4 separate regions of the Homo sapiens genome follow, and all the other regions are linked to region 4. Evidence: fine-mapped expression QTL. A gene starts in region 4. Each other region holds a variant in brackets. All regions are shown on one strand. Distances are from middle to middle.

The links. PIP is the estimated chance that this variant, and not a neighbour inherited with it, causes the effect. A credible set is the group of variants that fine-mapping cannot tell apart.
Region 1: its variant is the best candidate, but not a certain one, in a credible set for the expression of STRC in whole blood (TOPMed, PIP 0.69).
Region 2: its variant is the best candidate, but not a certain one, in a credible set for the expression of STRC in whole blood (TOPMed, PIP 0.61).
Region 3: its variant is the best candidate, but not a certain one, in a credible set for the expression of STRC in nasal epithelium (TOPMed, PIP 0.76).

The regions. Positions count from the first base shown.
Region 1 is chr15:43,748,793-43,756,860 of GRCh38, reverse strand. It overlaps PDIA3 (protein disulfide isomerase family A member 3), which reads right to left. Exons shown (of 13, transcript NM_005313.5): 2 at 2,959-3,037; 3 at 95-212. Among named protein-coding and RNA genes, the nearest start is that of PDIA3, 6.4 kb to the right of the region's middle. The variant G/C (reference allele first, on the strand shown) is at 4,873.
Region 2 is chr15:43,737,131-43,745,198 of GRCh38, reverse strand. It overlaps the pseudogene CATSPER2P1. Among named protein-coding and RNA genes, the nearest start is that of PDIA3, 5.3 kb to the left of the region's middle. The variant A/G (reference allele first, on the strand shown) is at 3,165.
Region 3 is chr15:43,698,987-43,707,054 of GRCh38, reverse strand. It overlaps CKMT1A (creatine kinase, mitochondrial 1A), which reads right to left. Exons shown (of 9, transcript NM_001321926.2): 9 at 7,833-8,068. The coding sequence ends at 7,966. It also overlaps the pseudogene STRCP1 and the pseudogene RNU6-353P. Among named protein-coding and RNA genes, the nearest start is that of CKMT1A, 9.2 kb to the right of the region's middle. The variant G/A (reference allele first, on the strand shown) is at 3,467.
Region 4 is chr15:43,614,245-43,622,312 of GRCh38, reverse strand. STRC (stereocilin) reads left to right here and starts at 3,513. Exons shown (of 29, transcript NM_153700.2): 1 at 3,513-3,654; 2 at 3,957-4,742; 3 at 4,831-4,855; 4 at 5,623-6,880; 5 at 7,837-7,899; 6 at 8,001-8,068. The coding sequence starts at 3,591. RefSeq lists an enhancer at 6,103-6,976.

The DNA.
Region 1 (8,068 bases), 130 kb before region 4:
AAGTATACTGTGTAGAAAAACACATTTTTATGTTTCCACTACAAAGAATAAGGTACTTAACATCAGTTTCCAGAATGTAATTCAGGATCCTTACCAGCAGTCCTAGGTCCATCATAAGCACCTGCTTCTTCACCATCTCTAAATATCTTCAGGGTTGGATATCCACTGACTCCATATTTATTACAGGTGTTAGTGTTGGCAGTGCAATCAACCTAAAGATCAAAATACACAAACTATTTTCTTATCCAAGTTTCTGCTGCAGGTTCTTCCTATATTCTCAAAATACTAGGATTGGTCAAATCCTAAGGGGATCAAGGAATTCTTGGCATATATGCCACAGAACATTAGATTTTAAAGGCAGACTGGAGCTTGCCTAACTACATCAGAACTGCCTAAGGAATTCTTTAAAATTGAGATTCCTAGGCCTCACATAAAATGCAAAGTTCCTGTTTAAATTCTGCCCTTGTAGTCTCTATTAGCTAAAGCGGTGGTCTTCATCTTTTTTCTGCCTCAGAACACATGAGGGATAAATCACTTAAATTATTAACAGTGGCTTACTTTGATTACGACTATCACCAAGGGGATATATCGATGGTGGTACATATCCTTTAGGTGTAATGTAATTTGATTTTGCAAATCATCTAGAGCTATTATCAAAGGTACCAACACCTGTACACGTACCCTGAACTAGTTTGAATCTGGGCTATACCATAACATAACCGATCTAGTGAGACCTATCAGGAAGAAGGAAAATAATTTCCCGGAACGAGCCACTTACTCCAACCCAGGCACAAGTACTTTGCATATATTATCTCATTTAATCTCCATAAGATTATGAAGTATGATCCTTATGCTCTAAGATGGGTAAACTAAGATCCAGAAAATTAATTAATGTGTCTATAGTCACACAGGTAGGAATTGTGATTGAATTTTTTTTTTTTTTTTTGAGACGGAGTTTCACTCTTGTTGCCCAGGCTGGAGTGCAATGGCACGAACTCAGCTCACTGCAACCTCTACCACACAGGTTCAAGCCATTCTCCTGCCTCAGCCTCCCGAGTAGCTGGGATTGCAGGCACCGGCCACCACACCTGGCTAATTTTTGTATTTTTAGTAGAGACGGGGTTTCACCATGTTGGCCAGGCTGGTCTTGAACTCCAGACCTCAGGAGATCCACCCGCCTTGGCCTCCCAAAGTGCTGGGATTACAGGCGTGAGCCACAGCGCCTGGCTATGATTAAATTTTTTTCCTATGGCAAGCTGCTTGATAAGATTAAAAGTAATTTCCAAAAATAGCCTTATATATGAACTATTTGGCAGAGGTAAGAGCTTTTAGACTAGAACAACTATGGGTTTACTACAGAATGGCAACATTCTGGAAGCATTACTTTAATTGTAAAAACAAATACCAAGTTTACAGTTGACCATTTGGTTACATTTTCATCAATATCCTCATATCATTTTCGTATTACCATCATTGTGATTATCACATAGCAGTTTAGGGAACTCATTTACTTGTAGATTATTATTATTTTTTGAGATGGAGTCTTGCTCTGTCGCCCAGGCTGGAGTACAGTGCCATGATCTCAGCTCACTGCAACCTCCGCCCCCCTGGGTTCAAGCGATTGTCCTGTCTCAGCCTTCCAAGTAGCTGGGATTACAGGCACCTGCCACCACACATGGCTAATTTTTATATTTTTTAGTAGAGATGGGGTTTCACCATGTTGGCCAGGCGGGTCTCGAACTCTTGACCTCAGGTGATCCGCCCTCCTCAGCCTGTCAAAGTGCTGGGATTACAGGCGTGAGCCACCGTGCCCAGCCTCAATGATTATTTTAACCTTTATAGCTGTACTTCTGCTTTCCATCTTTAATTCTTATTTACCATATACTTTACTACTTTTTTTTTTTTTGAGACAGGGTTTCGCTCTATTGCCCAGGCTAGAGTGCAATGGTTCAATCACAGCTCAGTGCAGCCTCAACCTCTCTGGCTTAAGCAATCCTTCCACCTCAGCCTCTGAGTAGCTGGGACTATGGAAGCCTGCCTGTATCTTTAGTAGAGATGGAATTTTGCCATGTTGCCCAGGCTGGTCTCAAGTGATCTACTTGCCTTGGCCTCCCAAAGTACTGGGATTACACTTTTTTTTTTTTTTTTAAGAGACAGGGTCTTACTCTGTCACCTAGGCTGGAGTCTAGTAGTGTGCAGTGTCTAGTCACTGCAGCCTCAAGCAATCCTCCTGCTTCAGCCTTTTGAGAAGCTGGGACTACAGGTGTGAGCCAACACACCCAGCTTTTTAAATTTTTTGTAGAGATGAGGTCTTGCTTTGTTGCCCAGGCAACAAACTCCTGGCCTCAAGTAATCATCCCAAAGTGCTGGAATTACAGCTGTGAGGCACCATACCTGGTCTATTTTACTTCTTATGCCAGTAATTTCCTTACTCTCACTACTTTTAATTTTTTTTTTTTTTTTTTTTTGAGACGGAGTCTTGCTCTGTCACCAGGCTGGAGTGCAGTGGCCCGATCTCGGCTCACTGAAACCTTCATCTCCTGGGTTCAAGCAATTCTCCTGCCTCAGTCTCCTGAGTAGCTGGGACTACAGGCACGTGCCATCACACCCAGCTAATTTTTGTATTTTTAGTTGAGACAGGGTTTCACCGTGTTGGCTAGGATGGTCTCAATCTCTTGACTTCGTGATCCACCCACCTCGGCCTCCCAAAGTGCTGGGATTACAGGCATGAGCCATTGCGCCCAGCCACTACTTTTAATCTTTTGAAACTACAAGTCAGTTGTGTATTTGCCCAGAAACTAGTATTCGCTCTTCTTAGCAGAATAAGAGTAGAGAAAATGAATGTTAATCTTACAAACTATTTATTACTGTTATTTTTTTCCATGTAACAAAGCTGAGACAACAAACTACTTTTTAAAATACTTCACGTCCTTTAGTGAAGAATCCACCTGTACTTACCTTTGCTAATGGGACTATTCCTTTTAATCTGGTAGCTGCAGCTTCATACTCAGGTGCAAGTCTCTTGCAGTGTCCACACCTATATACGTATTAAAAAAGCCAAATTCTCAGTTTAGTCCTATGAATTTGTTAATGTTGTCTCACTAGGAAGAATCTCAAACTATAATACTACCTTTGAGCTAGTAGACACTTCCAAAAAGCAAAATCATCACATGAACAACATTCATTATTGTTAAAGTAAACCAGAACTCTCAAGAGGTAAAGGTCCTACCCCTAGACTGAGGTTGACTCCATAGTACTGGCTCAGCACAGGGCAGCTCTATTTTCTCAATACAAAGTATAACTAAGTTGTGAAAGCTGTAGTCAAAGGTGTACGCCACATTATTAAAGAGGGTTGAATGGGTTAATGCCCTTTTGACCAATTAATGAGGCTGAATGAAGGACAAAATAGAAATAATCCCATTTCTGATAGAATTCCCCAGAGGAAAATACAATTCCCTGGGAAACCAGCATTGTGGTTGTTAAAAATAGTGACTGAAGCTCACACCTGTAATCCCAGCACTTTGGGAGGCCAAGGCGAGTAGATCACTCGAGGTCAGGAGTTCAAGACCAGCCTGGCCAAAATAGTGAAACCCCGTCTCTACTGACAATACAAAAATTAGCCAGGCGTGGTGGTGGGCACCTGTAATCAAAGCTAATCGGGAGGCTGAGGCAGGAGAATTGCTTGAACCTGGGAGGTGGAGGTTGCAGTGAGCTGACATCGCGCCACTGCACTCCAGCCTGGGTGACAGAATAAGACTCTGTCTCGGGGTGGGGGTGGGGACACAAAATTGTGACTGAAACCCTGTAATGTCTCAAGTATGATATTAAGTCTTTTAGATGGCAGGCCTGATTTTTACAGCTACATAGTTCACCTAGCCATGAGAAGTGATAACAAAACATGTAAACTAGAATACCTTTCCCAGAGGGCCACCAGAAGCACCGGCTCCTCTGCCCAGAAAATCCTAATCAGTGTATATACAGCTAGCACCAGCTGTACATCACCTTTTCAAAAGCCAAAGGGTTGCAGAGGGATCACGTTGAGAAGGTGAGTTCTGTAACCTTCCCGTAGACAGCAAAAATAGAAATATAATAGAGAAGAAACTTGAGCAGATATATTTCAATAGTCAATGGTGTAATTTTATCAAGTGATGGATAACTTGGAAATATTGTACACCTAAAACTTGTTTAAAATAAAGGATTATAACAGCTTATTCTCCAAGGCCTTCAGGCGGCCTATTAAAGTATAAAAGAACCAAATGATAAATACCAAATTCAAGATAAAGGAGTGTATAAGATGGTAAAGGGGCACATAGGGGACTTCAAATGTACTGGCTATGTTTTTCAGACTGAGTGCAAACAAATGCTATTCCTTATGCTGTATTTCAGATTCATTGTTTTTTCCTGATATTAAGATGTATTTTGCAGTCATGTTATAGTTTCAGTGGTAGTATTTCTTTCTCAGTGAGACACAAGATAGTTCCTCTCACAATCAGTGGTATCTTATGTGTGTGAAATAGGGTCTTATTCATTATATCCTCTGTATTCCTTTAATACTGCATAGTAAATGGATTTTAAAGGGAGTAACAATTGGATCTGGGTCTTTAAGGATTTAACGCTTCAGAGAGAAGAGGGCAGGGTATTTAAGATGAGGGAGATAGTAGAGCAAACGTAAAAGAATACCAGTAAGCATGATGCATTCAGAGAACTGTAAAGGGCTTTTGTGAGATAATAAATGTGCGTGCACGTGTACTAAGACTACGTCAATCAGCAATGTCAAAGACTGACAGAAAGGGAGAAAATAGAGACAAGAGTAAAGCCATCTAGAAGATAATATATTTCACATGGCAGACAATAAAAGCTTGGACCGGAATG[G/C]CAGCAATGAGAATAAAGAAGAGACAGATGAGAGATTTCTGTTGAATATATAGTAGTTGTCAAGGCTGAGGCAACAGATTTATGAGTTAATTGTTTCAACTATCTTCAAACATTTTAAGAGAAAAAAATCACATACAATAGTTACTAGGTCAAGCCAGTAGGTGTCAACTCTAGATGCTTATCAAAAATACCCACAGAGCATTAAAACAACAAAAGTATGCATGGCTTACTGAATGAGAATCTCCAGAAATCTGGGGAGCAACCAGGTGTGTGTGTAAGCTGCAAGGCTGGGACTAAAATCCACTGCCTTAAACTTTGGCAATATCCATAAGGTCATCAAATCCACAAAAAGAGTTTCAATGAGGCTGGAGGAGACTCTCCTCTTCAAATCCAGCAGGAATGGAACTCAGGTGGTATTTAAGGGAAATCAGGGTTGGTTAACATACATCCTTCAAGATTAACCACTACTTCTTTCACCCACCCCTAGAAAATATTAAAACACAATTAATTCTATCTATCCTCAGGGATGGCACCTGGCAGTTGATAATGAATTCCAACATATATTCACCCATAATCATCACTTCATCATGTGTGCCATGCGTCAAGTACTTTTTGATAAGTGCCTTATCAAGTGTCTTTGATAAGAAAATTGGTATAGTCCTTTCCTTATAGGAACACCAGTCTGGCAGGGGTGACACAGTATTATTAGATGCCAATAGAGAGGCAGGATCAACCAGTTAGTTGTCCAGGGAAGGAAAAAAAAAATATGAGCTAAATGTTGATGTTGAAAAGATCAACTCGGGGTGGGGATTACAAGTAAAGAAATTAGCACATATATTATTTTTTTTTTTTTTTTCGAGACGGAGTCTTGCTCTGTCACTCAGGCTGGAGTCCAGTGGCATGATCTCAGCTCACTGCAACCTGCACCTCCCAGGTTCAAGCAATTCTCCTGCCTCAGCCTCCTGAGTAGCTGGGATTACAGGCTCCTGCCACCGTGCCTAGCCAATTTTTGTATTTTTAGTAGAGACAAGGTTTCCCCATGTTGGCCAGGCTAGTCTCAAACTCCTGAACCTCGTGATCTGCCCACCTTGGCCTCCCAAAGTGCTGGGATTACAGGCGTGAGCCTTTGCACCCAGCCATTATTTATTACTACTGTCTTAGAGGGTAGCATACACATCTATAGCATAAATAGATGTTGAGGACTTTTTTTTTTTTTGAGAAGGAGTCTCGCTGTCGCCCAGGCTGGAGTGCAGTGGCGTGATCTTGGCTTACTGCAAGCTCCACCTCCTGGGTTCACACCATTCTCCTGCCTCAGCCTCCCGAGTAGCTGGGACTACAGGCACCTGCTACCACGCCCAGCTAACTTTTTGTATTTTTAGTAGAGACGGGGTTTCACCATGTTGGCCAGGATGGTCTCGATCTCTTGACCTCGTGATCCACCCGCCTTGACCTCCCAAAGTGCTGGGATTACAGGCGTGAGCCACCGTGCCCGGCCAAGGACTTAATATTACATATTAACACTAATCAATAAATTTTCGGACATTTCCAAACATTTAAATAGTGTTATTTCCCCAGAGAAATTCAGATACTCTTATCCTTAAAAATATATAGCAGATTAACTCCATAATGGAAATATTAGTCTACAAAATCAACTGCAAAGAAAGCTTTCACTAAGCCAGGCACGGTGGCTCACGCCTGAAATCCCAGCACTTTGGGAGTCCAACGCAGGTGATTCAGGTGAAGTCAGGAGTTCAAGACCAGCCTGGCCAACATGGTGAAACCTGGTCTCTACTTAAAAAAAAAAAAAAAAAAAAAAATTAGCCAGACAGGGGAGGCGGAGGTTGCAGAGCCGGGATCGCGCCACTGCACTCCAGCCTTGGCAACAGAGAGAGACTGTCTCAAAAAAAAAAAAAGCAAGCAAAGCAAGCTTTCACCTTTCACTTTCACTTGAAACATGAAAGCGGAAAAAGAATTTGCTTAAATAGGTCTATTTTGTGACGAGAATAAGGTTAAAAAAAAAAAAGCCCATTTTACTTTCTTTTTTGAGATGGTCTCACACTGTCATTTAGGCTGGAGTGCAATGGTGCAATCTCAGCTTCCTGCAACCTCCACCTCCCAGGCTCAAGTGATCTTCTCCTCCCACCTCAGCCTCCTGAGTAGCTAGGACTACAGGCGTGTGCTACCATGCCCGGTTAATTTTTGTCATTTTTTAGTAGAGATGGGGTCTGGCCATGCTGCCCAGGCTGGTCTCTTACCTCGCCACTGCCTCCTGGGTTCAAGTGATTTTCCCAACTCAGCCTCCCAAATAGCTGGGATTACAGATGTGCGCCACCACGTCCAGCTAATTTTTGTATTTTTAGTAGAGATGGGGTTTCCCCATGTTGGCCAGGCTGGTCTGAACTCCTGATCTCAAGTGATCTGCCTGCCTTGGCCTCCCAAACTGCTGGGATTACAGGAATGCACAACAGGGCCAGACCCCATTTTACTCTTACTAAGGATTTTTTAACTGTTTCTTGTAAGATAGTACTACTGAACTGTACAAAGGAATATAGCAGTCAGAAAACATTTCCAGCTGAAATGTTAATAAATAAAAATACAGAGGCCAGGCTAGGTGGCGCACGCCTGTAATCCCAGCACTTTGGGAGGCCGAGGAGGGTGGATCTCCTGAGGTCAGGAGTTCACCATCAGGCTAACATGGTGAAACCCCGTCTCTACTAAAATACAAAAATTAGCCGGGCTTGGTGGTGCGTGCCTGTAATCCCAGCTACTCAGGAGGCTGAGGCAGGAGAATCACTTGAACACGGGAGGCGGAGGTTGCAGTGAGCCCAGACCATGCCACTGCACTCCAGCCTGGGTAACAGAGCAAGACTCTGTCTCAAAAACAAAACAAAACAAAACAAAACAAAAACAAAAAAACAGGCTGGGTGCAGTGGCTCATGCCAGTAATCCCAGCATTTTGGGAGGCCAAGGTGGGCAGATCACCTGAAGTCAGGAGTTCGAGACCAGCCTGGCCAACATGGTGAAACCCTGTCTCTATTAAAAATACAAAAAAATTAGCTGGGCATTGTGGCAGGCACCTGTAATCCCAGCTACTCGGGAGGCTGAGGCAGGGGAATCACTTGAACCCAAGAGGCGGAGGTTGCAGTGAGTCAAGATAGTGCCATGGCACTCTAGCCTGGGCAACAAAGCGAGACTC
Region 2 (8,068 bases), 120 kb before region 4:
ATGACACTTGATGCTTACATTTTCTTAGCAGACATGGCCGCTTACCAACAAGAAGGGCAGATGCAGCTTCCCCGAGCTGATGCCATTCGTTCACGTCTCATCGATACTTTCTCTCTCATCGAGCATTTGCAAGGCTTGAGCCAAGCTGTGCTGCGACACACTATCAGGAGTTACTTGGTCAGCAGCCTATTTCTTCACTAATTTAAATTTAAGACTCCTATCCACATCCTCTACATTTAAGAGTGGAAAATTCTGGGGAGGCCGGTTTAGTTGCTGGTTTACCAAACTTGATAAATCAAGGGCTTGTAAATAAAACTAAGGAGATAGAATCCACGTCTTTCACTTTTAGGCCTAGGATAGCCACTAGCCGTGGATGATACGGAACAGTTTCTGTCAAAGACTCTTAAAACTTTGAGAGTGAACCTGCTGCTTTTGTGGGCATGGACAGTGTTGGTCATAAGCAATACATTTGCTCTCACTCCAAACAGAATTCTTAGTTGCTGTGAGAAGAGAAGGACCAGCAGTAAGCCATTAGGGGGACCCATTATCTGAACAGTATCCCTGCCCCCAACCCTACCTGGTCTATTTTGTTTGTATTTATCCACTACCCCTTTTCAATTTTTGTTGTAGATCCTTCCCGCCAGAAGAAACTTATGTTGGGAGATCAACACCAGCTAGTGGGCGTCTCTATAAAGCCTCAACGTATAGAACAGATTTCACATGCCCAGAGGCTGTTGAGCAGGCTTCATGTGCGCTGCAGTCAGAGGCCACCTCTTTCTTTGTGGGCCGGATGGGTCCTTGAGTGTATCCTTTCATGTCACTCATTTTTATCCTGGCTGTTGATCATCTGCCTAATGACTTATTTTTTGCTTCCCAAACTCCATTGTCTCATTCTCACTGCTTATGTTATTGCTCTTATTATTTCAGCTGCATAAATCAGAAAGAACTCCACTCTGTATGTTTCCTTAAGAGACAACAGGTCCTCTCTTCAAAAACTTCATCATCTTCCTGATCTTTTTGAATACGATCGTACTGATGGTTGAAATACGTGAGAACTGACATTGTATGAAAGAGGAAGTGAGGCCAGGCGCGGCGGCTCACACGTGTAATCCTAGCACTGTGGGAGGCCGAGGCAGGCGGATTGCCAAAGCTCAGGAGTTCAAGACCAGCCTGGGCAACATGGTGAAACCCTGTTTCTACTAAAAAATACAAAAAATTAGCTGGGCGTGGTGGCATGGCCTGTAGTCCCAGCTACTCGGGAGGCTGAGGCAGGAGAATCGCTTGAACCCAGGAGGCGTAGGTTTCAGTGAGCTGAGATTGTGCCACTGCATTTCAGCCTGGGCGACAGAGTACAACTCTGTCTCAAAAAAAAAAAAAAAAGAAAAAGAAAAAGAGGAAGTGGGTAGGAGTAATTTTTTTTTTCTAAATTGATCATTTTACATTTTTGAATGTCATTTGAAATGTGACATTTATATTAAGGACAATTAAGCCTCCTGGAGTAGAATTTATGCAACTGCTAAAATCTAGAAATATTCGCTGGGCACGGTAGCTCACACCTGTAATCTCAGCACTTTGGGAGGCCGAGGTGGTTGAATCACTTGAGGTCAGGAATTCAAGACCAGCCTAGCCAACATGGCGAAATCCCATCTCTACTAAAAATACAAAAAATTAGCTGGGCGTGGTGGCGGACACCTGTAATCCCAGCTACTCAGGAGGCTGTGGCAGAATAACACTTGATCCTGGGAGGCGGAGGTTGCAGTAAGCCGAAATCACGCCACTGCACCTGATCTCAAAAAAAAAAAAAAGAAATATTAATATTTGGAGGGCTCTCAAGCGTATACTAGATACAGAGCATCTAGACACATAAAACTAGGTGTAATATGTAGCAATGTAACAAATCCACAAGGAATTGAACTTGGGAAGACCAGTTTTATTTCTGTTGTCAGTTTAGGCTGACAATTGTTTGCATTAACCTTTTCTGTTAAAGATATTGGTGCCTATCGGTGAATGATCTAACATTTACATTTTTTTTTTTTTTGAGACGGAGTTTCACTCGGTCGCCCAGGCTGGAGTGCAGTGGCACGATCTTGGCTCACCACAAGCTCAGCCTCCCAGGTTCACGCCATTCTCCTGCCTCAGCCTCCGAAGTAGCTGGGACTACAGGTGCCCGCCACCACGCCCAGCTAATTTTTTGTATTTTTTAGTAGAGACGGGGTTTCACCGTGTTAGCCAGGATGGTCTCAATCTCCTGACCTCGTGATCCACCCGCCTCGGCCTCCCAGAGTGCTGGGATTACAGGGGTGAGCCACTGCGCCCAGCCTAACATTTACATTTTTACAAGTATATTTAGAAATATTATTCAAGTAAAAATAAGAAAGCTCACAAAGTATGGAAAGGTAGGTACCACTAAGATATTAGCTGAGCCAAAAAAATTACTTAAAAGGAAATGATTCTTAAACCAATAATAAATTATATGAAACATATTCAAAACATAAGGATGTCTGCAAAATCAGTGAGCTCATTTGTTGATAATCTCAAACTGCTCAGAAATGATGAAAGGACAGTAGAACTACTCACTTGTTTCATTCTCACTGTTGTAGAGAAGTCTCCCACTTTATTTTTTAGTGACAGAGTCTCACTTTGTTACTTAGGTTGGAGTATAGTGGTGTGATCATGGCTCGCTGCATCCTCAACCTCCAGAGCTCTATTGATCCTCCCACGTCAGCCTCCTGAGTAGCTTGGACTACAGGTGCATGCCACTACACCAAGCTAATTATGTTGATTTTTTTTTTGTAGAGACAGGGTCTCACTATGTTGTCCAGGCTGGTCTTGAACTCCTGGGCTTAAGTGATCCTCATACCTCAGCCTCCCAAAGTGCTGGGATTACAGGCATGAGTTACCACGTCCAGCCTAGGAGGAATTTTTAAGAGAAGGGCGTAGTTATGAAGCTCTTGGCTGTTTATGTCACACAGATATTTTCCTCAACAGAAGTGTCCAGTGCCGGTAGCCAGTTCAGAACTCTGCCTCTAGCTCCAAGTCCCCTACAAGCTTATCTCTGGGGCCCAGGCATGGTGGCTCATGCCTGTAATCCCAGCACTTTGGGAGGCTGAGGCAGGAGGATTGCTTGAGCTCAGGAGTTTGAGACCAGTCTGGCCAATGTGGAG[A/G]AACCTCATCTCTACAAAAAATACAAAAATTAGCTAGGTGTGGTGGCACATGCCTGTAGTCCCAGCTACTCAGTAGGCTGAGGTGGGAGGATCGCTTGAGCCTGGGAGGCGGAGGTTGCAGTGAGACATCGTGCAACTGAACTCCAGCCTAGGTGACAAAGTGAGACCCTGTCTCGAAAAAAATAGTCCTTTACTGCAGTCAGGTCAAAGATATTTAAATAAACAACAATAATTGATGTCACGGACCCACTACAGTATACTATATACTTTGAGGTGTTTTATTTCCTCCTCATAATGGTGAAGATTTTGAACTAAGTTACTTATAATTCCCTTTTATTGTATGATTGCTGCCATGTATTTGCCTTGCATGGCTAGGATTATAGTACTAAGCCTTGGAATGAAGTAAATAATAGTAACTATACAGGATTTCCTAGATCAGTGGTCCCCAGCCTTTTTGGCTTCAGGGACTGGTTTCTTGGAAGACAGTTTTTCCATGGATGGGGTAGGAGGGAGGTTTCAGGATGAAGCTGTTCCACCTCAGATCATCAGGCATTAGATTCTCCTAAGGGTCACGCACATGCAGTTCACAATAGGGCTTGCCCTCCTATGAGAATCTAATGCCGCAGCTGATCTGACAGGAGGTGGAGCTCAGGCGGTAATGCTCACTCACCCACCACTCACTTCCTGCTGCATGGCCGGGTTCCTAACAGACCATGGACTGGTACCAGTCCGTAGCCTGGGGCTTGGGACCCCTGCCCTAGATCTAATAGACAAATCAAAATAGAATAGCACTAACTATTCTATTTGGTAAAACAGTTAACTGAATATGAAACATGATCACTGTGTCAGAGGATAAGTAGATTGCCAGACTAGAAATTATCTGGCAAGCTCGTGGAAATTTTATCTTATTAAGTTTATTCTTGTGGGAGAAACGGAGGAGGGATTTTGCAGAGGGAAATTATTTGTGATTAACAGATTTCTTTGAACAGACTAATTCATATGATAAACATTAAGACTTTTTTTAGGCTTAAAATTTTTTTTCCAGATCACAAAGCGATCTAAACTGTTAGGGCTTTAAAAAATCTACTTCCACAACTGGATATTGGTAATTCTGTTTTGCACTTTATTTTTTAAATTTTATTATTTTATTATTATTATTTTTTGAGACGGAGTCTCGCTCTGTCACCCAGGCTGGAGTGCAGTGGCACGATCTCGGCTCACTGCAAGCTCTGCCTCCCAGGTTCACGCCATTCTCCTGCCTCAGCCTCCCGAGTAGCTGGGACTACAGGCCCCTGCCATCACACCTGGCTAATTTTGTGTATTTTTAGTAGTGATGGGGTTTCACTGTGTTAGCCAGGATGGTCTCGATCTCCTGACCTGGTGATCCGCCCGCCTCGGCATCCCAAAGTGCTGGGATTACAGGCATGAGCCACTGTGCCTGGCCTCTGTTTTGCACTTTAAACATCAATTGGCTTATTTTTAAAATCTTGTATTTTGTTTCAAATAATGAGAAAGAAAAAATGATTTGACTCATTTGCAAGCCTTTGTCAGAAAATAACACATTGCAAGTGTAGACAATCTCTACTTAAAATTAAAAACTGAGTATATTAGGAGGGTGAGGTGGGAGGATCACTTGAGCCCAGGGGATTGAGGCAGCAGTGAGCTATGATCTCACCAGTGCACTGCAGCCTGGGTGACAGAGCAAGATTCTGTATCAAAAATAAAATAAAACCTAAGTATAATATCATTACAATTTTTTCCCAAAGGTGGGCATATTCCTGAAGATTACAATTTTTTACATTGACTTTTAAAGTCCTAGAGAGGGTTTGATGTGCTATATAAAGTTTTTGGTCATATGAATGGAATTTATAGAATCTGATGAAGATCATCTTGAGATTAAACTTGCAGAATTGTCATTCTTTTTTTTTTTTTTTTTTTTTTGAGACAGACTCTTGCTCTGTCTCCCAGGCTGGAGTGCAGAGACGCCATCTCTGCTCACTGCAAGCTCCACCCCCTGGGTTCATGCCATTCTCCTGCCTCAGCCTCCCAAGTAGCTAGGATTACAGGCGCCCGCCACCACGCCCAGCTAATTTTTTGTATTTTTAGTAGAGACGGGGTTTCACTATGTTAGCCAGGATGGTCTCGAACTTCTGACCTCGTGATCCGCCCGCCTCGGCCTCCCAAAGAGCTGGGATTACAGGCATGAGCCACCGCGCCCAGCCAGAATTATCACTCTTAATGCTCTTCATGAAATTGTATTTCTGGCTGGGCATGTGGCTCATGCCTGTAATCCCAGCAATTTGGGAGGCCTAGTCCTGCGGATCACTTGAGGTCAGGAGTTCAAGACCAACCTGGCCAACATGGTGAAACCCCATCTCTACTAAAAATACAAGAATCAGTGGGTATGGTGATGTGCACCTATGGTTCCAGTTACTCAGGAGGCTGAGGCAGAAGAATCGCTTGAACCCGGGAGGCGGAGTTTGTAGTGAGCTGAGATGGCAGCTGGGCAACAGATTGAGTGAGACTCCATTTCAAAAAAAAAAGAAAGAAAGAAATTATGTTTCAACATCAGTGTTCCTTGTTTCATGATGGATATAACTAGCCAAAACATTACTAAAAATATTAAAACTGTAAATGTCAAAATCTACATAACAGTTTATTGTTACAGTGTACTATTCTCCTCACCTATAGTATTGGACTCCTTGAAACCAATGTGAATTTACCTGGTATTCTGTGAGGTGACCTACTGTTGTTTTTCTAGAATAGGGAGTAGCAATAGATGACTGTTCATGGTGAACTCTACCTTGTAAAACAGAATTATGTATTTGCCTGACTTGCTTGATCAAATGGCTACTGTCTGTCACCCTGAGAAGAATATTGAAACATAGATGTTCACTGCTACTTCACTTCACTGGCTAAGATTCCTGGGTAGACTTCACTGGGCTCCTGGTCTCTATTTCCATTAAGACTCCTTTGCTTTGCTATAGCAGCCTGAAAAATTCCAAGAATTTTAAAAAGTTATTTTTCATCTTCAGAGAGGACACATTACTTGATGTAGAGTGGAGGCAGTCACTTCTGCACATTCTGTGCTGCTGAGGCAATTTCTGCTATTCGTTCCTCTGAACTTCCTTGGGTTTGTTTAGCTTCTATAAAATTATTCATTTTTCCAGAGAGTAAAAGTGCTACTGCTTCTATAATTTGGACTTCCCTACTTAAACTATTTTAAACTACTCAAAACTATATTCTGCTTTACAAGAGCCTTATTTTACTTCATTGCTCTGTTTGGGTTCCTGTTTTGCAAGGGCAAAAACTGAATAAAAATTATAGCATTCTATTTTCCAGCCACAAATGTGGTCCTCAGCTCTTTCTAATTATATAATCCCATGCTCCTGAGAGCTAGAATTTATTGTTAAGTGAAAAAATTTTGTATTTTATTGAATTTAAGCTGTCATCAATGGTGAAATTCACTGTTTACCAATAAGAAATAAAAATCATGCTCAATTAAACTGGGACACATCGCTGGTTGTAAAATGCATCCTCACTTTGGGAGGCCGAGGTGGGCAGATCACGAGGTCTAGAGATAGAGACCATCCTGGCCAACATGGTGAAACCCCGTCTCTACCAAAAATAATAAAATTAGCTGGGCATGGTGGCGCAGAGGCAGAGGTTGCAGTAAGCTGAGATTGCACCACTGCACTCCAGCCTGGAAACAGAGCGAGATTCCATCTCAAAAAAAAAAAAAAAAAAAAAAAGCATCCTAATTTCATGGATGTTAAAATGTGAAATATTGTCCATCTTAGAGAAATGTGCATGAAAGAAAAACTTACGGAAGAAGTACAGAGCCTAAATAAGCATAGGAGTGCTGGGTGCAGTGGCTCATGCCTATAACCCCAGCACTTTGGGAGACCAAGGCCGGAGGATCGCTTGAGCCCAGGAGTTTGAGGCCAACCTGGGCAGCATAGGGAGACCCCATCTCTACAAGTAATTTAAAGAAAAAATTAGCTGGGCATGGTGACATGTGCCTGTGGTCCCAGTTACCCAGAGGCTCTTGAGCCCGGAAGATCCAGGCTTCCGCGAACTGTGATTATGCCACTGCACTCCTCCAGCCTGGGTGACAGAGTGAGACTCTGTCTCAAAACAAGCATAGGAATAAGTATAGTGTAACCCCATTGGTTTTTAGAAGGGGCCAACCTCTGTAAAATTCTAGGGATGATCGAAGTATGGTTCTGTTCTTTTTGTCTGGATCCAGTTCAGCATCAGGATGAATTTAAAGCCAGAGCACCACAATGTTGATTTCTATTTAGCTCTTAAGCCATTTTAATTTCAGTGTTTTTTTTTCTAGAGCATGGCATACATCCATTAATTGTATAAAAGAGATGAAGAAGGTTGAAAGAGAAAGGCAATGAATTAAGGAATAGCAATTGGTAAATAATAAGGTTCTAGAGAGGAAGTATGCATTCAATTTGCTTTGCAGAACAAAACCAATTTTAGGCAGGGAAGAAAGGAAAAGTTTTAAAAGAAAGCTAACAGAACCAAGTGATTTATTGTTATAATTCGATATACCCTAATGATTGTGGCTTGTTTCTACATTCGTTATAAAGTAGTTCAGATATCATGGCCCTGTATTTTCATTCTGTTCTCAAGACCCATTGCTTTCTTGTGAACTTTGGGACTGAGATAACAGTACAGTAGATGGGGGTGGGGGGTTGGAGGTAGGGGTAATTAAAGAGAGTAGTCTCTTAGTAGCTGTGTGAGCCCCAGAGTGGATCGCAAGTGACTTGTAGCTGGGCAGACATAACTATATGAACAGATTGGTTGTGGCTGTGTTTTATGGTCAATTCTGTCCTTCCCTGTATTTCACAGGTTGAAGCAACAGTGTTAAGAAGAGAAACTCTTAACTCTTA
Region 3 (8,068 bases), 85 kb before region 4:
TCTGAAGTGAGGGAGGCAATGCTCCAAATCTGCCCCAGAGGATTGTAGTTTGCTCAGGGCACTGTGTTCTTAGTGCATTCAGAGGAGTGGATCGAGAGAAAAATATATGAAAAATGTGATAAATACCTTCAAATACCTGAGGGGCTATCAAGTAGAAATTAGATTGTCATATTTATGAGTGGCCCCATTGGGCAAGACTAAGAGTAGTTAACGGAGATCAGATTTTTACATAGTATAAGAAAAACTAAGGTAGTGAGTTCCTGGTCCTTGGAGCTGTTCGAGCCTAAGCCAGATGGCCCCATGGCAGGAATGTTGTAGAGCACGTTCATATACAGGTTGTGGGAAGAAAAGGCTATAGGAACCCAAGGCTCCTCCCTACCCATGGAGAAATTTATTAGTATGTTACTCATATGCTGCTTTTCTCATTTTACCCCTACCACCACCCCGTTGCCATCCGCACTGTAAGTCAGGATAGGAAAATGCTGGTGTTACAGTCTTCCTGGGGAATATGGAGCTGAAGTGGAGTAAAAGCAGTTGACTTCATTCTTACTTTTTTCTTTTTCTTTTTTTTTTTTTTTTTGAGACAGAGTTTTGCTGTGTCACCAAGGCTGGAGTGCAGTGACGTGATCTCGGCTCACTGCAACCTCCATCTTCCAGGTTCAAGCAATTCTCCTGCCTCAGTCTCCCGAGTAGCTGGGACTGTAGGTGTGCACCACCATGCCAGGCTAATTTTTGTATTTGTTGTAGGGACGAGCTTTCACCATGTTGGCCAGGCTGGTCTTGAACTCCTGGCTTCAAGTGATCTGCCCACCTCGGCTTCCCAACATTCTTATATTTTTATAGGCCTTTCCACAGATTTCAGCTCTTGTATGACTTAGCCCAGTTCCAGAACTGGTAATCCTAGGTAGGGTACAGGTTATCACCTCTGATTTCGGGTAAAAGGGATTTATTTATTTATTTGTTTATTTATTTATATTTTTGAGACAGAGTCTCGCTCTGTCACCCAGGCTGGAGTGCAATGGTGCCATCTCGGCTCACTGCAACCTCTCCCTCTGGGGTTCAAGCACTTCTGCCTCAGCCTCCTGAGTAGCTGGGATTACAGGCGCGTGCCACCACACCCGGCTAATTTTTGCATTTTTAGTAGAGACGGGGTTTCACCATGTTGCTCAGGGTGGTCTCGAATTTCTGACCCTGTGATCTGCCTGCCTCGGCCTCCCAAAGTGCTGGGATTACAGGCATGAGCCACTGCGTCCGGCCTGTTTTTACTTTTTTTTAATGCCATTCAGATCTGTTTAAATATGTGGGTTCTGTGAGATAATTTAGAATCCCAAGGTTACAGATGAGGTGAAAGATCCTAGACCATGCATCAAAAAACTTGAGTTTCTCATTTGTGAAAGAAGGATAAGAGAAACACCTATTTTGTCTGGGTGCAGTGGCTCATGCCTATAATCCCAGCATTTGGGGAGGCCAAGGTGGGTGGATCACGGAGGTCAGGTGTTCAAGACCAGACTGGCCAACATGGCAAAACACCATCTCTACTAAAAATACAAAAGTTAGCTGGGCGTGGTGGCACGTGCGTGTAATTCCAGCTATTCGGGAGGCTGAGGCACGAGAATTGCTTGAACCTGGGAGGTGCGGGTTGCAGTGAACTGAGATCGCAGCACCACTGTGCTCCAGCCTGAGTGATGGAGTGAGGCCAGGTCTTGTTGTAGGATCAAATGAGATAACACCTGAAAGAACTTTGTAAATTGTATAGCACGTACAAACAAGAAGGGACCTCTTCACAAGCAGAGGAAGGGTGGTCCTGTGGAAAAAAACGGGAATTGGGAGTGAGAGACCTCAACATTTGATCTCTGTGAACCTCAGTTTTTTAATCTATAAAATGGGGAAATGTTAATGGTACTTAATATTTGGAGCTTTTGAGTCCATTAGATCAGGTAGGATTGTTCGTTATTTTTTTTTTTTAGGAAGACTAGAAATATGTTGCTCCCTTTTTCTCCCCCACTCAAGCTTGATGGTGGGAATTGGCCCTGGAGCTGTTTACTGTCAGTTCCTGTCCAGCTTCACTAAATTTGGTCTGGGGTCACATCTTAGCTGGGGACTGTGGGGTTCTGTGGTCCCTTCTCGACTTGGCCCAGCTCCACTTGAATGATATTGTTGTCAAATTGCTATAATAGAATCCAGTTGATGGACAGACTATCCAATGAATCCATTATGTTGGTGGTGGAGCTGGTGCAAAGAGCTCCAGAGCAGCTGCTGGCACTGACCCCCCTCCACCAGGCAGCCCTGGCAGAGAGGGCACTACAAAACCTGGTAAGAGTCCACCCTACCAGACTCAGATTTGCTGCCCTGGGCAATTCTTGCTCCTCAGACAATGCTCTCTGACTGTCCTCCAACCCTCTACTTCTTGCTTTCTTGCTGCCAAACAGGTTCCTGTCTACAAGGCCTGGCCCGTTTTGCCTCTGGGTTCTGTTCCTTGATAATATGCTTCACGTTACTTGTCCATACCTCTTGGAGTCCGAGAAATCTCTTGGAGTCCACCTCTCAGTCTTTCTGCCTGCTCCTATCTGGTCTCATTGCTTAAGAAAGTGAACAAAGGTAGTGAGCATCATAGGGTGCTGAGTTGGGAGCAGGAGGGAGGGAAGGTCAGGGGGCTTGGTGTCTTGATCAAGGTGTCTGGTATTCTGAGTCAGAAGTGCATTGTCCAAGTTCTGATGCTCTTCTCCAGGCTCCAAAGGAGACTCCAGTCTCAGGGGAAGTGCTGGAGACCTTAGGCCCTTTGGTTGGATTCCTGGGGACAGAGAGCACACGACAGATCCCCCTACAGATCCTGCTGTCCCATCTCAGTCAGCTGTAAGGCTTCTGCCTAGGAGAGACATTTGCCACAGAGCTGGGATGGCTGCTATTGCAGGAGTCTGTTCTTGGGTATGGATCTTCGAGAACTTCAGATTCTAACTCATTCTATACCCAGTCCCTCAGCCACCATCATCAGTGGCAGCCTGTTCCATATTCCTAAGGGCCCTTGGAGCCCTGTGTCCGAAATCCTAGCATGTCCTCTTTTCCCCTTCCTTTTCCTCACAGTTCCCTCAGCTCCCCAGCCCCCGATTTTCTTCCTGTCCCCAGGAAACCAGAGTTGTGGAGCCAGGATGAAGTAGAGCAAGCTGGACGCCTAGTATTCACTCTGTCTACTGAGGCAATTTCCTTGATCCCCAGGGTGAGATGAAGGAAGAAGGGAAGGGAGTAAATGCATAGAGGGGACTGGTGAGCTGGTTATGGGGACCCGTGGCCAACGAGGGCAAAGGATATGAAGCCTAGATCTGGGGGGATACTGCGAAACAGAGACAGGACTTTGGACTTATAGCTATAGCAGCAGGTCCTGATCTGTCCAGATCTCCCCACTCTCCTTCTACCTTCTCATGCAGGAGGCCTTGGGTCCAGAGACCCTGGAGCGGCTTCTAGAAAAGCA[G/A]CAGAGCTGGGAGCAGAGCAGAGTTGGACAGCTGTGTAGGGGGCCACAGCTTGCTGCCAAGAAAGCAGCCCTGGTAGCAGGGGTGGTGCGACCAGCTGCTGAGGATCTTCCAGGTGAAACTACCCAAATACTTATATGTCCAGCAGGATGTACAGGGAGTATCAAACGGTCTGGGTTCTACATGTGCTTTTCTCTGGGACTGGGTTTTCTAATTTATAAAGCAAAGAGTTTAGAGGGATGATCTTCAAGTCTCGTCTAGTTCTAAAATTCTATAGCTCTGGGAGTGTGTAAACTATTAAGTTTTCCTTTAGCCCAGAACTTCCATTTTCCTGCTGTCTTGTCTCTTTAAACAGCTGACTCAGCTCTAGCTCGGCTAAGTGTGGAGCTCTCTGCTGGGGAGATCCCTCGAAGGAGACATTGTGAGGCTAGAGAACTGGTTTCAAATTCAGCTCTGCCATGAAATCCCTGACCAACATCCTCAGTCTTCCATCTATAAAATGAGGGACTTGGCATCTCCAATCACTTCTTGTTCAATTCACTTCTAAGCCCTATACATCTTAACCTGTAATACTCCCTCGATCCCTACTTCCCACAGTGCTCCATCCTCCAAAGGTTGGAAGAGTCATTCCATCTACAGATACCTCCTGGCCCTGCCTTCCCCCTTCAGAACCTGTGCCAAATTGTGCAGATGTACGAGGGACATTCCCAGCAGCCTGCTCTGCAACCCAGATTGCTGAGATGGAGCTCTCAGACTTTAAGGACTGCCTGACACTATTTGCAGGAGACCCAGGACTTGGGCCTGAGGAACCACGGGCAGCCATGGGCAAAGCAAAATGGGTCAGGGACGGAGAGCCAACTGAGGTTGGCCATGAGGAAGCTGTGTGGGTGTGATGTAGGACACGAAGAGAATAGAGAGTTGGATGAGAGGTGGGGGAAGCAGAAGATAAAAGAGTTAGAAGATTTGGGTCACAAGTAGAAGGTGAGGAGAGATAAATATTGAGGAAAGAGAGCTACTATAATGAATAGAGGGACTAAAGCAGTGATTACCAAATTTTAATGCATATCACAATCATCAAGGGAACAGATTTTTTTCTTTTTTCTTTTTTTTTCTTTCTTAAAAAATAATGGCATACTTCATGAATTTGTGTGTTATCCTTGCGCAGGCGCCATGCTAATCTCTGTATCATTCCAATTTTTTTTTGTATATGTGCTGCTGAACCGAGCACGGGAACAGTGCCAATGCTGGATTACCATGCTAGACTGACTTAATAAAAACCTTTGCGGAGGCTGGACGGAGTGGCTCGTGCCTGTAATCACAGCACTTTGGGAGGCTGAGGCAGGTGGATTGCTTGAGCCCAGGAGTTTGAGACCAGACTGGGCAACATGGTGAAGCCCTGTCTCTACTAAAAATAGAAAAAAAATTAGCTGGGTGTGGCGGCACATGCCTGTAATCCCAGCTACTCAGGAGGCTGGGGTAGGAGAATCCCCTGAGCGCAGGAGGTGGAGGGTGCAATGAGCCAAGATCACACCACTGCACTCCAGCCTGGGTGTCAGAGCAAGACCCTGTCTCATAAATTAAAAAATAAGCCTCTGGGAGAAAGTCTAGACATCTGCATCTGCTTTTTTTTTTTTTTTTTTTTTTGAGACACAGTCTCACTCTGTCACCCAGCATCCAGGCTGGAGTGCGGTGGTGTGATCTTGGCTCACTGTAACCTCTACATCCTGGGCTCAAACGATCCTCCTGCCTCAGCCTCTCGAGAAGCTGGGACTACAGGTGCACACCACTACACCTGGCTAATTTTTGTATTTTTGGTAGAGATGAGGTTTCGCTGTGTTGCCCAGGATGGTCTTGAACTCCTGGGCTCAAGCATTCCTCCCACCTCAGCCTCCCAAAGTGCTGGGATTACAGCTGTGAGCCACTGTGCTGGGCCCCAGGCATCTGCATTTTAATAAGCGTCTCTGTGTCTGATGCACATAAAAGTGTGGAACTCATGGACTAGAGTTAGTTTGCTCTTCTTTTCCACTGATTGTAATGTCTTTCAAAACACCTTAGAGGAACTGTAAGGCAACGGTCTCATTTTATAGTGGAGGAAACCAAAGAAAAGGCAAGTGACTTGCCTAGAGTTATACAGCTAAGGTCAGAGGCAAGACTTAAAACCCAGCATTCTGACTCCCAATCTACTGGTTTTCCACTCACATTGTTCCTCTCTTTCTCCTAGTTGTGGGGTCCCCCCCGGGGATTTGGTCCTGAGCAGATCCTGCAGCTCGGTAGACTCTTAATAGGTCTGGGAGATCAGGAACTACAGGAGCTGATCCTAGTGGACTGGGGAGTGCTGAGCACCCTGGGGCAGATAGATGGCTGGAGCTCCACTCAGGTAACACTTTTACTCCTCCCTACCGCTTCCCAAACACCCATCCCACAGACCCAGCCCTATAGATCATCTAAAGCCCAAGGAATTTTTTCCTGTGACCCTACCTGGTCATTCTTTCTGTCTTTTGTTAATATCCCATACTAGTGACCTTCAGGACTCTTGATTTATTCACTCTGAGGCCCTGGACACATAATACTGTCTCCTACCTCTTTTCCTGGAGGCTTCCTCTTTTTCTTTCCTTTTCTTTTCTGAGTCCTCAGCCTTCCCCATGACTCCTTAGGTCTTAATAGTAACAGAATATAACCCAGTAACACCTATCACTTCCCTGTCCATTAATTCTCCATAACTTTCCTCCTTCCCCTCTTCTCCCACCCCCCACCCCAGCTCCGCATTGTGGTCTCCAGTTTCCTACGGCAGAGTGGTCGGCATGTGAGCCACCTGGACTTCGTTCATCTGACAGCGCTGGGTTATACTCTCTGTGGACTGCGGCCAGAGGAGCTCCAGCACATCAGCAGTTGGGAGTTTAGGTCATTTGTGAAGGGGCTGAGGGTGGTCGTGTTCAGGTAAAGGTGGACTTGCTGGGGAAAGGAGGATCATGAAGTTATAGTCCCATGGAGGAAGGGAACTCATTTGAAGCCATCTCTTCCTTTGTCTCATGACCACAGTCCCTTTCACTGAAGCCGAATTCTTCTTCCTTCCTTCCCACTGTTCTACAGCCAAGCAGCTCTCTTCCTGGGCACCCTGCATCTGCAGTGCTCTGAGGAACAACTGGAGTTTCTGGCCCACCTCTTTGTACTGCCTGGTGGGTTTGGCCCAATCAGTAACTGGGGGCCTGAGATCTTCACTGAAATTGGCACCATAGCAGGTGGGGAGCTGGGCCACTGCTGGTGCAAGTTGGTTTGGTTTCTATACCATGGGTGGACTGGATGGAAGACTGCCCTGCAATTCTTCAGGTGTGGGCCTGAGAGGGTGTTTAAATAAGGGGCTAGAGACATATTGGGGAAGGTCTATGATAGGGCACTTTGGGAGTAGTTAGAGAAGGTCTATAGGTTTGAAGAGAGGGAAGGTCAGTCTAAGACAATGTTTGGATGCCACTTGCTTCAACAGCTGGGATCCCAGACCTGGCTCTTTCAGCACTGCTGCGGGGACAGATCCAGGGCGTTACTCCTCTTGCCATTTCTGTCATCCCTCCTCCTAAATTTGCTGTAAGTATTAATGGACTGGGGTGACCACAGGAGAGCCAGGGCCCAATGGGGACTACATGCATGCACTGATTCCTACCCCTGCCCTCAGGTGGTGTTTAGTCCCATCCAACTATCTAGTCTCGCCAGTGCTCAGGCTGTGGCTGTCACTCCTGAGCAAATGGCCTTTCTGAGTCCTGAGCAGCGACGAGCAGTTGCATGGGCCCAACATGAGGGAAAGGAGAGCCCAGAACAGCAAGGTGAGTTCCCAGCTGCACAGCTTGATCCTCCATCTCCTGACCCAGAATCAAACCCCTAATTTGGTGCTGTCTGGCTCTTAGAGTGCACCCAGGGAGATCCCTGGAGTGAAGGAGTCTACAGGCAGAGCGCTAATTTCCAAGTATCAATGCTCCTGGAGAGCTGAGTTGTGATATTACTCCCATTCCCTGTCTATTATAGGTCGAAGTACAGCCTGGGGCCTCCAGGACTGGTCACGACCTTCCTGGTCCCTGGTATTGACTATCAGCTTCCTTGGCCACCTGCTATGAGCCTGTCTCTACAGTAGAAGGAGATTGTGGGGAGAGAAATCTTAAGTCATAATGAATAAAGTGCAAACAGAAGTGCATCCTGATTATTTTCAGAAGCTGATGAGGAATATGGGTAAAATGTTAATGCTTTCCACCCACCTGAGAATCAGTGTTCCTGGGTTGCCATATCTGGAGTCTCTTTCCATCATAAATAATCCCACTGCCTCTTTTCATTTCCTGAAGGCTGCTCCCTCCTCACCCCACCATTAGAAGTAACACAGACAGCTGCAGCATAGCAAGGAGTCTTTACTAGGATGGAGGCAGGGGATGCGAGGGCAGGTCCAGAGCAAGTAGAATGGGCCATCATTAGAATGAGCAGAACTCCTTGGAATCTTGAGTCATCAGCTGGCGATGGGGAGTTAATGCTTGGTGTGGATGACAGGTGTGGGGATGCGGATATCCTGGCCTCTCTCCAGACGCCGTTCACAATCAATCAAATAGTTTACTCCATCGATGACCAGT
Region 4 (8,068 bases):
GAACAGAACTAATCACCTGATCCCAGCTAACTGCAAGAGATCTGGGAAATGTGAGAAACACCTAGATATCTAGTAAGCAATAAATATTTCAGTTACCAAAGCCAAACCAAAAAAAGAGAAAAATAATTGTACTTTACAAAGGGAGGCATCTGGCTGAGCATTGTGGCTCACGCCTGTAATCCTAGCACTTGGGAGGCCGAGGCAGGCAAATTGCCTGAGCCCAGGAGTTTGAGACCAGCCTGGGCAACATGGCAAAACCCTGTCTCTACAAAAAATACAAAAAATCAGCTGGGCCTGGTGGCACGCACCTATAATCCCAGCTATTCACGAGGCTGAAGCATGAGAATTGCTTGAACCCAGGAGGTGGAGGTTGCAGTGAGCTGAGATCACACCACTGCACTGCAGCCTGGGCGACAGTGTGAGACTCAGTTTCAATTAAAAAAAAAAAGGGAGGCATCTGTTCTTGTCAGGCAGAGAGTGTCCTGTGGGAGTTTTGGGGAGTGAGGATGTTTCAGAGTTCTCAACTCCTGTGGCTCTTCCCAGGTATACCCATTCTAACTGGCAGATCACAGAGTGTTCCAGTTATCACCAGTCTTATCCATTTCATTTTAGCAGGACATATGATTAATTTCTTGTTCTGGACCTTTGTAATTTAAATTTGCTGGTTGTTCTCTGTTTCCATTTGGTCACCTGTAGGTTGGAACTTGTCTTGCTCTTGTTGAACTTTATCAAATTATAAGCAATTACCAATACACTCAAATAGCCTGGTATATGTGCCATAAACCCTAAGCACTTTGCCGTCAGTTTGCACATAGTCTGAATCCTTAGCGGCAAGAGAATTGCTTAATCAATGGCTTACAACAGCAGAACGTGGACTGCCAGGAAAATTTCCATCCTGAGTTAAGGGAATCCTCATTGTTTCTCTCTCTGGTTGACTCAACTAGTTCCATATTTGTTCTGAAGGTCTTTCACTCAAGATACAACTTCCAGATAATCATTTATGTATTCATTAGAACTCCTTTAGTTTCAAGTAGAAAAATTCATCTTGAGCTATTCTAATAATAGTAATAGTAACATAGAGTGAATGTTTATTCTGTACCAGTGTCTGGCCCATAATAAGTGCTTAATCTTTGTTGAATGAATGCTAGACATTGCACTAAGTACTTTAAATGCATTATCTAATTTAATCCTCACAAAAACTCTACACTAGGGTTTTTTCCTTTTTACAGTAAAAACAACAACAGCAACAACAACCACAACAACAAAAACCCAAAAAACCAAAAACAGAGATTTAGAAACTGCCCCAGGACACACAGCTAGTAAATGTTGGAACCAGGGTTTGAACCTAGACCATCTCATTTTTTGCTACCCTATGAGGAAAGAAGGATAATTTATTATAAGAGGGTTGTTACAGAATGAAGGGCAGAAATTCAGAAGGATTACAGGATGGGCTGGAACCACAAAGCTGTTGGGAACTCAGGTCGTATTCTCCCTCAGATTCAACTGTCTGCTTTTTAGACTAGGTGTGGTATCCTTGATGGGCAAAGGGAATATTGGTAAAATTACACAACAGATCATTTCACTGATCTCAACTTTTGATTTGCCTTGGAAAATCCCATCATTGCTCCCAGCTGTCTTTGTGACCTGGGTTAAGTCATTCCATTTCTCTGGGCTTCAATTCCCCTGTCTATAAAATGAGAAGTTCTTACCAGAGGATTCCTCAGGTCTCTTCTGTGATCCTGGGAGGCCGAAGCAGGAGGATTGCTTGAGTCCAGGAGTTTGAGGGTGCAGTGAGCTAGGATCATACCACAGTATTCCAGCCTGGGCCATGGACCAAGACCCTGTCTCTAAGTAAATAAATACACAAAAATAAAACTCTATGATCCTAAGTGAATCTTCTAGATCAGAAGCACATTAATAATGAAGTTCCATGTGTGGATTTGAGGGAGAGAATGGGGAAGGGTTCTAGGGAAAGAAGGACAGAATAAAAGTTTGGGTATAGCTTCAGTGTTGAATTACTATTTAGAGTTGGTATAAAGTGAAGGCCTTTGGGGAGATATAGATGGAGAATGGAAAAGACTTCTAATCCTGGACTGGGGCAGTAGCTCAAGCCTGTAATCTCAGCACTTTGGGAGACTGAGGTGGATAAATCACTTGAGGTCAGGAGTTCAAGACCAGCTTGGGCAACATAGTGAAACCCCGTCTCCACCAAAAAATACAAAAATTAGCCGTGCGCGGTGGCGCATGCCTGTAGTCCTCAGCTACTTGGGAGGCTGAGACAGGATAATCGCTTGAATGAAGGAGGCAGAAATTGCAGTGAGCCAAGATAGTGCCACTGCACTCCAGCCTGGGTAACAGAGTGAGACTCCATCTCAAAAAAAAAAAAAAAAATGCCGCGGTGGCTCACACCTGTAACCCCAGCACTTTGGGAGGCTGAGGTGGGCAGATCACTTGAGGTCAGGAGTTCAAGACCTGCCTGGCCAACATGGTGAAACCCCATCTCTACTAAAAATACAAAAATTAGCTGGGTGTGGTGGCACGTGCCTGTAATCCCAGCTACTTGGGAGGCTGAGGCAGGAAAATCGCTTGAACCCAGGAGGCAGGGGTTGCAGTGGTCAGATAGCCCCACTGAACTCCAGCCTGGGCAACAGAGAGAGATTCCATCTCAAAAAAACCAAAACCAAAAAACCAATAAAACAAAAAACAAAAATGACGAAAAAAGACTTCTAACCCTGACCAGACCAGATTATTTTGAATGAAATCTCTTTCTCTGTTCCATGAGCAGTTCTGTGTGTAGGGAGATCAGTCCCTGTGCATAGTGATTTAATCTGGTTTCTGTCTTCTCAGCTCAGAGTTTTTGATAGGGCTTTCACCTAGGCCACAGAGAAAGAACCAAATGATAGGGGATCCCGGAGGGGGAAGGAAAGACCCAAACATTTGAATGGCCTAATGAGCAAATCACATTTCTCTGGGTCTGTTTCCTTATCCATAAGTGAAAAAGTTTGGTGTATGTGATCTCTGGGGTACTGCTCAGCTCTTGACACTCTGTGGTTCTGGGTAGTAGTTGAAAGCAGCTCTCCTCTTCCTGAATTCTCCATCCTTGGACTGGACCTCTCGTCTGTTTATACCTTGCTGTGCAGTTTGTTTCTCCTGGGCGTCATTTCTTCTTCAATTTCCTCAAATCCTACTTGCTTCTTAGCTCCTTCATATCCTCTTTGTTTTCTTTGCTTCTGCAGAACCCCAGATTACACCCCTGGTCTCCAGTTCTCCATCTCCATGTCTGCCTGTTCCTTTCTGCATCACTGGCTCCTAACTCAAGCAATCTCCTTGGGTTTCTCTGAGGGGCCCCTGGGATCCCCTATCATTAGTCCCTCTCACAGAAGCATACCCTTCTCCAGAGCTAAAGGATCAGATATTCAGCGGCTCAGGTAACAAACCTGCTGTCAGGTTACACATATTGTTTCCTGAAAGACCACACTACAGTGTCAGTGGAGCCTCAGGTTGCCTGCAGTGCCCTGCCCTCACCTGGCTATCCCACACAGGTGAGAATAACCAGAACTCACCTCCGGTACCAGTGTTCACTTGGAAACATGGCTCTCAGCCTCTGGCCCCTGCTGCTGCTGCTGCTGCTGCTGCTGCTGCTGTCCTTTGCAGGTAAGAAGAACAGTGAGCAGAACTGGGGATGAGGAGGAGGGTGGCTGGAAAAAGACTTTAAGAATATGGAGGTGAACCTGTTAGATAGAAGGACAAAGGAGAGAGGCAGAGACTTGTGCAAAAGGGAAAAATGAGGGTTAAGAAAAGCAGGCCAAGACTTACTGTAGGCCAGTGAAAGGGGTTCAGCTCACCATCCCCTCACCTCATCTTTAGATCCAGGTAGGGAACTGTGCTCAGGGGCAGGGTTGAGTTTGGGCTCTGTGTTCCTCTCCTTCAGTGACCTCTGGTTTCTCTCCTTACAGTGACTCTGGCCCCTACTGGGCCTCATTCCCTGGACCCTGGTCTCTCCTTCCTGAAGTCATTGCTCTCCACTCTGGACCAGGCTCCCCAGGGCTCCCTGAGCCGCTCACGGTTCTTTACATTCCTGGCCAACATTTCTTCTTCCTTTGAGCCTGGGAGAATGGGGGAAGGACCAGTAGGAGAGCCCCCACCTCTCCAGCCGCCTGCTCTGCGGCTCCATGATTTTCTAGTGACACTGAGAGGTAGCCCCGACTGGGAGCCAATGCTAGGGCTGCTAGGGGATATGCTGGCACTGCTGGGACAGGAGCAGACTCCCCGAGATTTCCTGGTGCACCAGGCAGGGGTGCTGGGTGGACTTGTGGAGGTGCTGCTGGGAGCCTTAGTTCCTGGGGGCCCCCCTACCCCAACTCGGCCCCCATGCACCCGTGATGGGCCGTCTGACTGTGTCCTGGCTGCTGACTGGTTGCCTTCTCTGCTGCTGTTGTTAGAGGGCACACGCTGGCAAGCTCTGGTGCAGGTGCAGCCCAGTGTGGACCCCACCAATGCCACAGGCCTCGATGGGAGGGAGGCAGCTCCTCACTTTTTGCAGGGTCTGTTGGGTTTGCTTACCCCAACAGGGGAGCTAGGCTCCAAGGAGGCTCTTTGGGGCGGTCTGCTACGCACAGTGGGGGCCCCCCTCTATGCTGCCTTTCAGGAGGGGCTGCTCCGTGTCACTCACTCCCTGCAGGATGAGGTCTTCTCCATTTTGGGGCAGCCAGAGCCTGATACCAATGGGCAGTGCCAGGGAGGTGAGTGTGGCCAGGGCTGGGACTGGGATGTGGCAGGGCAAGGAAAGTGAAATTGGGGTAGTTTTCTTCCTTACTCTTTCCCTCCTAGGTAACCTTCAACAGCTGCTCTTATGGTAAGTAACAGGAGACCAGTTCTGAGGGATTGGGCCTGGAAAATCTGGAGGTGAAGAGCTGAAGACCTCAGCCTCTAGAGAGGAAAACTGATGGGAGGAGTGTAGTTTAGTGGTTTTGGGGTGTGACTGTCTGGGTTGGTGTCCCAGCTCCACCTCTTCCTAGCCATATGACCTTGAGCAGGTTACATAGTCTTTCTATACCTCAGTTTCCCCATTTATAAAATGAGAATGATAATATTAGTTACCACAGAGTTGTTGCACCCGGTTAAATGAGTTGATACTGTGTATGCAAACGACTTAAAACCGTGCTGGCACATAGCGCTTAATAATGTTAGCTAGTAAAGATGGGATTTGGAAAATAAGGACACAGCTGGATTCCTCTACCCCCTTACTACTTCAGTACAACAATGCCAGACAGTAGTTAGACATATTGAGTTGCTGAGCAGATTTCCTAACATGAGGCCCGCTGAGGGTTGTGTTTAAGCTATCTAAAAGCATACGAAGAAAGGAGACAGAAGGGGGCCAGGTGGACAGAAAGAATTCCAACTGGGGCTTCTCCTAGGTGATTTTGGACCTTGGCAGGGCAGCTTTCTCTTTTTTGCCCCGTTGCAGCATTTCAACCAGTAACGCCTAAACTCTCAGGGACCTCGCTTGTAGAAAAGCCTATGCTTGCCATGCCCCTTGAGGGCTCTGAGTCAGGGTCAGAATCTTCAGCTGGAGGAAATGTGAACTGACCAGATCCTGCCTGCTCCTCCCTCTGCACCCAGGGGCGTCCGGCACAACCTTTCCTGGGATGTCCAGGCGCTGGGCTTTCTGTCTGGATCACCACCCCCACCCCCTGCCCTCCTTCACTGCCTGAGCACGGGCGTGCCTCTGCCCAGAGCTTCTCAGCCGTCAGCCCACATCAGCCCACGCCAACGGCGAGCCATCACTGTGGAGGCCCTCTGTGAGAACCACTTAGGCCCAGCACCACCCTACAGCATTTCCAACTTCTCCATCCACTTGCTCTGCCAGCACACCAAGCCTGCCACTCCACAGCCCCATCCCAGCACCACTGCCATCTGCCAGACAGCTGTGTGGTATGCAGTGTCCTGGGCACCAGGTGCCCAAGGCTGGCTACAGGCCTGCCACGACCAGTTTCCTGATGAGTTTTTGGATGCGATCTGCAGTAACCTCTCCTTTTCAGCCCTGTCTGGCTCCAACCGCCGCCTGGTGAAGCGGCTCTGTGCTGGCCTGCTCCCACCCCCTACCAGCTGCCCTGAAGGCCTGCCCCCTGTTCCCCTCACCCCAGACATCTTTTGGGGCTGCTTCTTGGAGAATGAGACTCTGTGGGCTGAGCGACTGTGTGGGGAGGCAAGTCTACAGGCTGTGCCCCCCAGCAACCAGGCTTGGGTCCAGCATGTGTGCCAGGGCCCCACCCCAGATGTCACTGCCTCCCCACCATGCCACATTGGACCCTGTGGGGAACGCTGCCCGGATGGGGGCAGCTTCCTGGTGATGGTCTGTGCCAATGACACCATGTATGAGGTCCTGGTGCCCTTCTGGCCTTGGCTAGCAGGCCAATGCAGGATAAGTCGTGGGGGCAATGACACTTGCTTCCTAGAAGGGCTGCTGGGCCCCCTTCTGCCCTCTCTGCCACCACTGGGACCATCCCCACTCTGTCTGACCCCTGGCCCCTTCCTCCTTGGCATGCTATCCCAGTTGCCACGCTGTCAGTCCTCTGTCCCAGCTCTTGCTCACCCCACACGCCTACACTATCTCCTCCGCCTGCTGACCTTCCTCTTGGGTCCAGGGGCTGGGGGCGCTGAGGCCCAGGGGATGCTGGGTCGGGCCCTACTGCTCTCCAGTCTCCCAGACAACTGCTCCTTCTGGGATGCCTTTCGCCCAGAGGGCCGGCGCAGTGTGCTACGGACGATTGGGGAATACCTGGAACAAGATGAGGAGCAGCCAACCCCATCAGGCTTTGAACCCACTGTCAACCCCAGCTCTGGTATAAGCAAGATGGAGCTGCTGGCCTGCTTTAGTGTGAGTGCTCTGCCAGAGGGAAAGCTCCTAGAACAGTGAGAAGGCCCTCCAGGGGAATTCCTCGAATACTCAGAGGCAGTAGTGTGGGGTAGTAGTTGAAGCACACAGCTCTAGAGTCAGACAGGCTTGGATTCATATCTTGGTTCTGTGACCAGCCTTGAATGAGTTATTTAACTTCTCTGAGCAATATTTTTCTCGTCTCATTTATAAACTAGGGATGATAATGGTATATGAGATAATACATGCTGTGGGCTTAGCACAGTGCATGATACACAAACATGCAATAAATATTACCTTGTTATTCTTTTGGGCTCTTTGACTCTCTCACTTTCTGCACCAGAAAGAAAAAGGATCAAGTTAGAGGACTCTAAATTTTTCCCCTAGAGAGTGAGAATTGGAGGCTGGCAGAATACAGGAAGATAAGGTAGGAATGAGAAAGATTCAGGGACACTACCAATCAGAAGACTTTGGTTCTAGGTTCAACTGTGCCACAAATTAGTGTGATCTTAGGCAAGCAATTTCATTTAGTTTTTCTGGGCTTCAGTTTTTAGTCTGTAGAATGGAGGGGTGAGAATATGTTAAACACCATAATTAATTCACTGAGTGCCTATTATATGCAAGGCACTTTGCTAGGTTCTGTAGGATATATAAAGATTTCTTACTCCATGTTGGGGCCACCTTTTTCAAACCCTGGGCCCAGTAAAATGGAATTAGATAGTCTCATAGTATTTGGTTCAGGTCTACAAGTATTAATTGAGCCAACTATGGACCTGGCATGGGAGAGGGTACAAGAGAAATTAGAGATATGATCCCGGACCTAAAAGAGCTTAATATCTGAAGAATCACACTTGAGATGATGGACAAGCATCCCAGCAAGTGGAGCTGGAATGCCTGGGGGAGCTGCAGGAGAGACAGAGAAGACAGCTCTGTTGGCATATTGTCTTTCTTCCCACCAGCCTGTGCTGTGGGATCTGCTCCAGAGGGAAAAGAGTGTTTGGGCCCTGCAGATTCTAGTGCAGGTAACAGGTGGAGGGCACATGGGTGGGCTGGGTGACAGCCATGGCTGGAGGTCCCTGCCCCGTGAGGTGAGGCCATACCCACCATGACCTCCTATTCGCAGGCGTACCTGCATATGCCCCCAGAAAACCTCCAGCAGCTGGTGCTTTCAGCAGAGAGGGAGGCTGCACA